Linked DNA regions of Homo sapiens. The protein of the gene in region 1 interacts with the protein of each later gene in a biochemical or structural test. Each region holds a gene or a part of one and is shown on either strand. Other genes may lie near its edges.

Evidence for each region.
Region 2: the proteins of PACS1 (region 1) and AP1G1 form a complex in vitro, tested with the Homo sapiens proteins (one study listed by IntAct).

What each region holds. Positions count from the first base shown.
Region 1 is NC_000011.10:66,230,521-66,234,333, forward strand, and holds part of PACS1 (phosphofurin acidic cluster sorting protein 1), read left to right. Parts: intron 1-27; coding exon 28-143; intron 144-284; coding exon 285-420; intron 421-1,651; coding exon 1,652-1,756; intron 1,757-2,439; coding exon 2,440-2,546; intron 2,547-3,264; coding exon 3,265-3,419; intron 3,420-3,611; coding exon 3,612-3,722; intron 3,723-3,813. UniProt on the Homo sapiens protein: Coat protein that is involved in the localization of trans-Golgi network (TGN) membrane proteins that contain acidic cluster sorting motifs.
Region 2 is NC_000016.10:71,753,293-71,757,105, forward strand, and holds part of AP1G1 (AP-1 complex subunit gamma-1), read right to left. Parts: intron 2,868-3,813; coding exon 2,727-2,867; intron 596-2,726; coding exon 541-595; intron 1-540. UniProt on the Homo sapiens protein: Subunit of clathrin-associated adaptor protein complex 1 that plays a role in protein sorting in the late-Golgi/trans-Golgi network (TGN) and/or endosomes.

The DNA.
Region 1 (3,813 bases):
TTCACTGTTTCCTCTCCTCCATGGTAGGAAATCACTGACCAGGACATGTTTGGAGATGCCAGCACGAGTCTGGTTGTGCCGGAGAAAGTCAAAACTCCCATGAAGTCCAGTAAAACGGATCTCCAGGGCTCTGCCTCCCCCAGGTACTGCAGATGGAAAGGAAGCAGGGGGTACAGCCTGCAGCTGTGCTTAGCATGGGCTTCAGGGCTGAGGGAAAGCGGGGCTGGCAGCAGCTTTGGGGTTGGAGGGGCTATTTCACCAGCCTTTTTCCACCTCCCTGGCAGCAAAGTGGAGGGGGTGCACACACCCCGGCAGAAGAGGAGCACGCCCCTGAAGGAGCGGCAGCTCTCCAAGCCCCTAAGTGAGAGGACCAACAGTTCCGACAGCGAGCGCTCCCCAGATCTGGGCCACAGCACGCAGGTACTTCTGGGTGCCCCCAAAACACCAGGACCCTCTGAGATTCCCTGAACTTCAGGCTCTGTTTTGTTGGCTTCCTTGGACAGTTAGTTGGAGAGAAGAGGAATACTTGGAAATGCTCTGAACAAAAACTCTTGAAGAAAGACTAAATTAGAGAGGTCTCCTATATTCCTTGCTTACTGCCAGTGTGGAACTGGCTTCCACGCTGACCTCTAGGGCGCAGGCAGGGGAGCCAAAAACGCTGTGTGGTCGTGGCCTGCCACGGCTGCGAGTGTCGATTCCACACCACCGGTGTCTCTGCCTCCATCAGACGTCAGTCTGGAGATTGTGCCGTGAATCCACTGTTGCAGAGGACAGCAGCCTCTGGATCTCATGGGACATCCTGACCCGAGCTCCCAACCTGAGTATTGCTGTGGGCGGTCATCGTGCTTTCAAGCCGGGAAGCCAACAATATTAAACTGTTTCAATGGAAGGACCCGAGAGTGGGCTGGAGAAGAAGTCAGAAGAACTGGGCCTCAGGAATCGTGTTCTCCTTTTGAAGGCCTGTGGTGTCAGAGATCTGGGACAGGGATTTTCCCGGCACACCTTACACAGTTCCAGTTCTGCTAGGGTTAAACAGCCAGCCTGTTCATTCCCCTGATAACTTACCAAGTGCATTGTCAGTGTGGCCTCCTGAGCTCCATGCTATTACATGGCTGAAAATGAACTTGAGACTAGAATAGCCCAGTGCCTGGGGTGAGGTATTGTCCTTCTTGTTAATCACTGTTCCTGAAATACCTTTTGTTCCCTCAGACAGCAGGTACCCACACAGCACTCATTGCCACTCTCATTATTTCTCTCCCCACTGCCCTCGTTTCTGTTTCTCTGAGCACCTGCTGGCCGCCCTCTGCCTCTCCCTTCCTGGTTCTTACGCTGCTGCCCCTCCTGCCACCCACACCGTTTCCCATCCGCGAGGCTTGCTGCACCTCCATCCTCTCCACCTGCCCTGGCAGGACAACCGCTGTGGCTTTGTTCCTCATCTCCATGTGTCCTCTAAGGACTCGCTTTGCTGCTTCTTTCTCCTCCTTTCCATCGTGGTCTGGCCAGTGGGAGACTGAGTCTCCCTCCCAAAGTCCTGATATCTGTTCTCTCTAACACCCCTGCTCCAGAGACTCCCCATGCACCAGTCCAGCAGCCCTGTCCTCAGGCTCCCCAGGGACTCCCTAACAAGAGACACTTTCTTTTGTTCCTGCAGATTCCAAGAAAGGTGGTGTATGACCAGCTCAATCAGATCCTGGTGTCAGATGCAGCCCTCCCAGAAAATGTCATTCTGGTGAACACCACTGACTGGCAGGGCCAGGTAAGTGCTGAAACTGCGAGGCCATGTGGGGTCCTGGAGGGCAGGCAATGCCCGGTTGCATTGTCAGTGTGGCCTCCATACTATTGCGTGGGGAGGTGGGGAACTCACCCCTCCATCAGCCCCCACCTGCTCTGAACTGAGCCCAGAACTCTGAGTTCTAGTCCAACTTCTGTCATTATCCAACTTGTGGGATCTTAAATCACTAAGTTTGCTCTACCTCAGCTTCCTCATACGTTAAAAAACAAACAAACAAAAAGCAACAGTAATTCCTCCAGGGCGCCACATGCGTCAGGCAGCATAGTGGAACGGAGGCCTGTAGAGAAGCACCCGGCTGTAACCTCCAGGGCTGCCCCATGAAGGCAGGTCAGCAAGGCAGAGCATCCCTGCCTGCTCCCTCACCGCTGTCCACCTGGCTTAGACACTGGTGCCGGGGACACCTGGAGTGTCCTAGCATGTGAAACCCCCTAAGGCTTCCCATCTCTCACACTCTGCGTGTCTCGTGGGTCGGCCCCACCCCCTCCTTACTGGCAGTCCGGAGACCTGGCTGCCTTTGCCCAGCTTCGGTCTGAACTGCAGAGGACAGGGGCCCTGCAGCTCGGTCTGGGTCTCACTTGCCTCTTGGCCCTTGTGAAGGAGTGATGTGTTCTCACCTGTGTCCCTGCTCTCCTCCCTCCCTATCCCAGTATGTGGCTGAGCTGCTCCAGGACCAGCGGAAGCCTGTGGTGTGCACCTGCTCCACCGTGGAGGTCCAGGCCGTGCTGTCCGCCCTGCTCACCCGGATCCAGCGCTAGTAAGGGCTCTGGCCTCCCTTCTCCTGCCCTTAGAGATTCCCTCTGACCTCATCTTCCAACCCTGACTTCTAAGCAATGATAGACCCTCCTGGCCTCATCAGACCAAGAATTTGCAGAGGGGCGTATGTTTAGGGGGGTGGCGGCAGCAGGCTGTAGGGCTTGAGGCCCCGGCAGACCCCAGAGGATCGGGGGTGGAAATATCAATTCCTGTGCTCCCTGCCTCCCTGCCTGGACCCCCGCCATGCCTTGACTTGCTTTATCCTCTTAAACCCATGATGAAGGAGAGGACACACTGGTTTTAAAAAGATCTTTTATTCCTTCCATCTGCAACATGCTGCTAGACACTCAGGAGTCAGTGCTTCCCCTACCCTCAGGGCCTTCTTAAAAGGCCCAAGTCCCTTGCCCTTGTGAAAGAGAACTATGGATTCCAGGCCTGGGGGCACACACCCTGCGGGCATCCCAGGCACACTGCCGAGTCCTACGTTAGCCTCAGCTGTTCCGTCTGCTTCATGGGCAATGCCCTCTGACCCTGGATTTTTCTCTTGGTTGTGAAAGCACTGTGGCTTATTCCCTGTATGATCCTCTCTGTTTTATTTTGTGGATTGGTTTGCTTTTCCCCTGTGGGTTGTTGAGATCACAGAAAGTCAGCTCTGGGCCTCCCCCGGGCAGGATCCTGGCACCCCTGAGCACTGCTATGACGCTCCCCTTCCTCCCCAGCTGCAACTGCAACTCTTCCATGCCGAGGCCAGTGAAGGTGGCTGCTGTGGGAGGCCAGAGCTACCTGAGCTCCATCCTCAGGTTCTTTGTCAAGTCCCTGGCCAACAAGACCTCCGACTGGCTTGGCTACATGCGCTTCCTCATCATCCCCCTCGGTAAAGACGGGAGGCACCAGGAGGGCGTCGGGCATGAGGGTTCCATAGACAGATGCCTCATCTGGAACAGGACGGTGGGGTTGGGGCCTAGGAAGGGACAGTCAAGGAGACCAAGGCCGTGGCCAGGGACAGCTGCTCCCACACTGTCTCATCTCCTGACGAATTCACCACCTCTGGTTTTCCATCTACCAGGTTCTCACCCTGTGGCCAAATACTTGGGGTCAGTCGACAGTAAATACAGTAGTTCCTTCCTGGATTCTGGTTGGAGAGATCTGTTCAGTCGCTCGGAGCCACCAGTGTCAGGTAATGGCCCCGTGTAAGGAGCTTACTCCCACCCCCGGGGTCCACAGGTGCCAGCCTGGCTGCAGAAGGAGGCTGAGGTCATGCTGCTTTC
Region 2 (3,813 bases), on another chromosome or scaffold:
TAGCCATTCAAAACCCTGCAATGGCTTCCTAACATATTCAAAATAAAATGCAAGCTCCCATGAGGCCTACATAGTCTGGCTCCGCTTATGTCTCTGACATCCATCCTACCATTCTCTGCCTCTCTCACTTTATGGCTTCACTTGCCTTCCTGTTGCTCTCCAAGCAAGCTATGCTTGTTCCTACCTCAGGTCTTTGCACTTAGGGTTCCCTCCGTATGGTACACTATTCCTCACGATCTCTGCATGGCTTGCACCTCATGTCTCTTAGGTCTCTACTCAAATGTTATCTCCTCTGAGAGACCTCCCTGACTAACTCTAATCTAAAACACTTGGCCAGTTGCCCTATATCCCACCTTATCCTGCCATCATTATATTCCTCCATGCTGCTTTAGGTTTTTCTTCATGGCATTTATTCCTAACTGACATTAATGTTACCTATTTACTTGTGAATTTCTTACCTCCCTGACTAGAACATAAACTTCATGATAACATCAGTATATCCCAGCACTTCGTATATGCTGTCTGAAAGAAGCTACTTACCGTTGTCAAAACACGCATAATTGTGTCTATATGCCATCGTTTGGAAGGTGCATACCTGAAAAAAACAATGGAAAGGGACACTTGGAACCAGTAAAATATACCGTTTTCAGTGACTAGAAAATCCTGCCCAAGCAGGGTGACTCACACCTGTCATCCCAACATCTTGGGAGGCCGAGGTGGGAGATCACCTGAGCTCAGGAGTTCGAGACCAGCCTGGGCAACACGGTGAAACTCCATCTCACCAAAAAATACAAAAATTAGCTGGGTGTGGTGGTGGGTGCCTGTAGTTCAGCTACTCTGGGAGGTTGAGGTAGGAGGATTGCCTGAGCCTAGGAGGTTGAGGCTACAGTGAGAAAGAAGAGAGAGAAAAGAAAGAGAAGAAACAGAAGAAAGAAAAGAAAGGGAAGAAAGAGAAGAGAAGAAAGAAAAGAAAGAAGGAAAGAAGATGGAAGGAAAGAAGGAAGGAAGGAAGGAAGGAACAAAAAAGAGAGAGAAAGAAAAGAAAGAAAAAGAAAGAAAGAAAGAAAGGAAGGAAAGGAAAAGAAAGGAAAAGAAAAGAGAAGAAAATCCTGTCCTACAGTCTTTTCTAGGTTCCCTGGATAAGTGAACATATCTGGAAACATTTCAACTTCAAATCTAGCAGCAAATGCCATTTCAAAGAGTGATAAAAAGGTATACAGTCAACTGACTTCAGTGGCTCATGCCTATAATCCCAGTACTTTGGGACGCCAAGGAGGAAGGAGTGCTTGAGGCCAGGAGTTCCACACAAACCTGGGTAACATAGCAAGACCCCATCTCTACAAAATAAAAATTAAAAAATTAGTGGCACATGATGATTTGCAGCTACAGTCCCAGCTACTCAGGAGGCTGAGGCAGAAGGATGGCTTAAGCCCAGAAGTCCAGGCTGCAGTAAGCTATGACTGGGCCACTGCCCTCCAGCCTGGGTGACAGAGCAAGACTCCGTTTCTAAAATTAAAGAAAAAAAAAAAAGAGGGTACATAGTCAAACTCAGATGTTTCCCATAAGATTGCAATAAGAGTTGCTAAGCTGAGAAATGAGATTTGTTTTCAGTTTCAGAGAAAATGAATCATTCAGTCAGGGCAGGAGACGATAAAGAAGAAAGAAGAAAAGGGACTGTTTTCAGACCAAGACAACATTTGGACTAAAAACTTGTTTCCTTAAATTCAGAGTGGAAAGAAGAGAAAGAATAGCTGTACTACTAAAATCATAAGGTACTTCCTCAAAATTCTGCATAGAGCTGCAATTCAGGTGCTGTAACTGTTCTATTGCCTTTATTAAAACAGCATCACAGGCCAGGTGTGGTGGCTGATGCCTGTAATCCTAGCACTTTGGGAGGCTGAGGCAGGCGAATCGCTTGAGTCCAGGAGTTCGAGACCAGCCTGGACAACATAGCGAAACCCCATCTCTACAAAAAGAAAAAAACAAACCCAGAAATTAGCAGGGTGTGGTGGCGTAAGCCTATGGTCCCAGCTACTTGGGGGGCTGAGGCAGGAGGATCCCCTGAACCTGGGAGGTCAAGGTTGCACTGAGCCGAGACTGTGCCACTGCACTCCAGCCTAGGTGACAAAGTGAGACCCTGTCTCAAAAAAACCCAAAACAAAAAAAACCAGCATCATAGATGAGAGGTTAAAGAACAGATAAAGGAGAAGATTTCATAAAAGTGTGAAATTTTTTTGGTCTCAGCATATTTAAATGCTGGCTATAATAGCCTTCTCCAAGCTAATTTATAATTGAGGGTTTGAAATAAATGTTATGTGTTTTAAACATATTTAAAGTAGTTTCCCCATTTTTTTTTTTTTGTTTTGTTTTTGAGATGGAGTCTTGCTCTGTCACCTAGGCTGGAGTGCAGTGGCATAACCTTGGCTCACTGCAACCTCCACCTCCCAGGTTCAAGTGATTCTCCTGCCTCAGCCTGCCGAGTAGCTGGGACTACAGGCGCGTGCCACCAGGCCCAACAAATTTTTGTATTTTTAGTGGCGACAGGGTTTCACTATGTTGGCCAGGCTGGTCTCGAACTCCTGACTTCATGATCCACCTGCCTTGGCCTCCCAAACTGCTGAGACTGCAGGCGTGTGCCACCGCGCCCAGCCCCCTCCCCATGTTTTAAAGACACTTCCAAAAGTTCCAAGCAGACTTTACCAATAAAGGTAAAAATTAAATCTTACTTTTCTGCAGCAAGAAAGATTCCAGATGCACAGTCTGCTTTAAATTCTGGCTCACACGAATCCAGAAAATAAAGTAATTCTTTCATCATGCCTCGGATATTATTCCCATTTACCAGGGCAAAACTCAATTCCATTGCACGCCTTGCAGAAGGGAAAAATTAAAAACAGTTAAGAAATTTATAGTGGAAATGAAACAAAGACCCAGGTATGCACTCTGTGAACACCAAGTACTGCCAGATGTGCTGACGTCCTTGCACGATCTTGTGATCCCAATCTTTGCACACGAAATAACCAAGGAGATGTATTCTTACATAATCAAAGTTAGTTTTGATATTTTGAATCTTCATGCAATATTCTTCTTCAAAAGTCCCTACGAGATATACCACTAATGTCCAAACATGCAGCTTGGGTTCAACAGGCTGTTCTACAAAGGTGGAAGTTAGAATACCTGAGAGTCTCAAAAAGAGGGGCAACAAATAAATGTATTACCCAATAATAATACCTATCTGCCTCATTCCTTAAAAATGTGACATGTTAAGTCACCATATTCTACTTTTATTACACCCCACTCTGTCCAAACATGATGTAATATAGTTTATGTCAAAAGGTATGCAGAAAATTCAAATTAAAAACAAATTCAAGGCCGAGCGTGGTGGCTCACACCTGTTTTCTCACCACTTTGGGAGGCCAAGGCAGGCGAATCACCTGAGGTCAGGAGTTTGAGACCAGCATGGCCAACATGGTGAAAGCACTTCTGTACTAAAAATACAAAAATTAGCCGGGCATGGTGGTGGGCGCCTGTAGTCCCAGGTACTAGGGAGGCTGAGGTAGGAGAATTGCTTGAACCCAGGAGACAGAGATTGCAGTGAAGTGAGGCACTCCAGCCTCGGAAACAGAGTGAGACTCTGTCTCAAAAAAAAAAAAAAAAAATTCAAAGGGAAAATGAGGGCCATGAGAAGGAAAAAAAAAATGGCATGTCCTAGGAGGACAAATAAGAGTTTCTATAACTGCCTATTCAAAGTTGGCAATGAAGTTAAAAATAGGAATGTTTAACATGTAAAAGCTGTAAGGTTGCTATATGCATCTT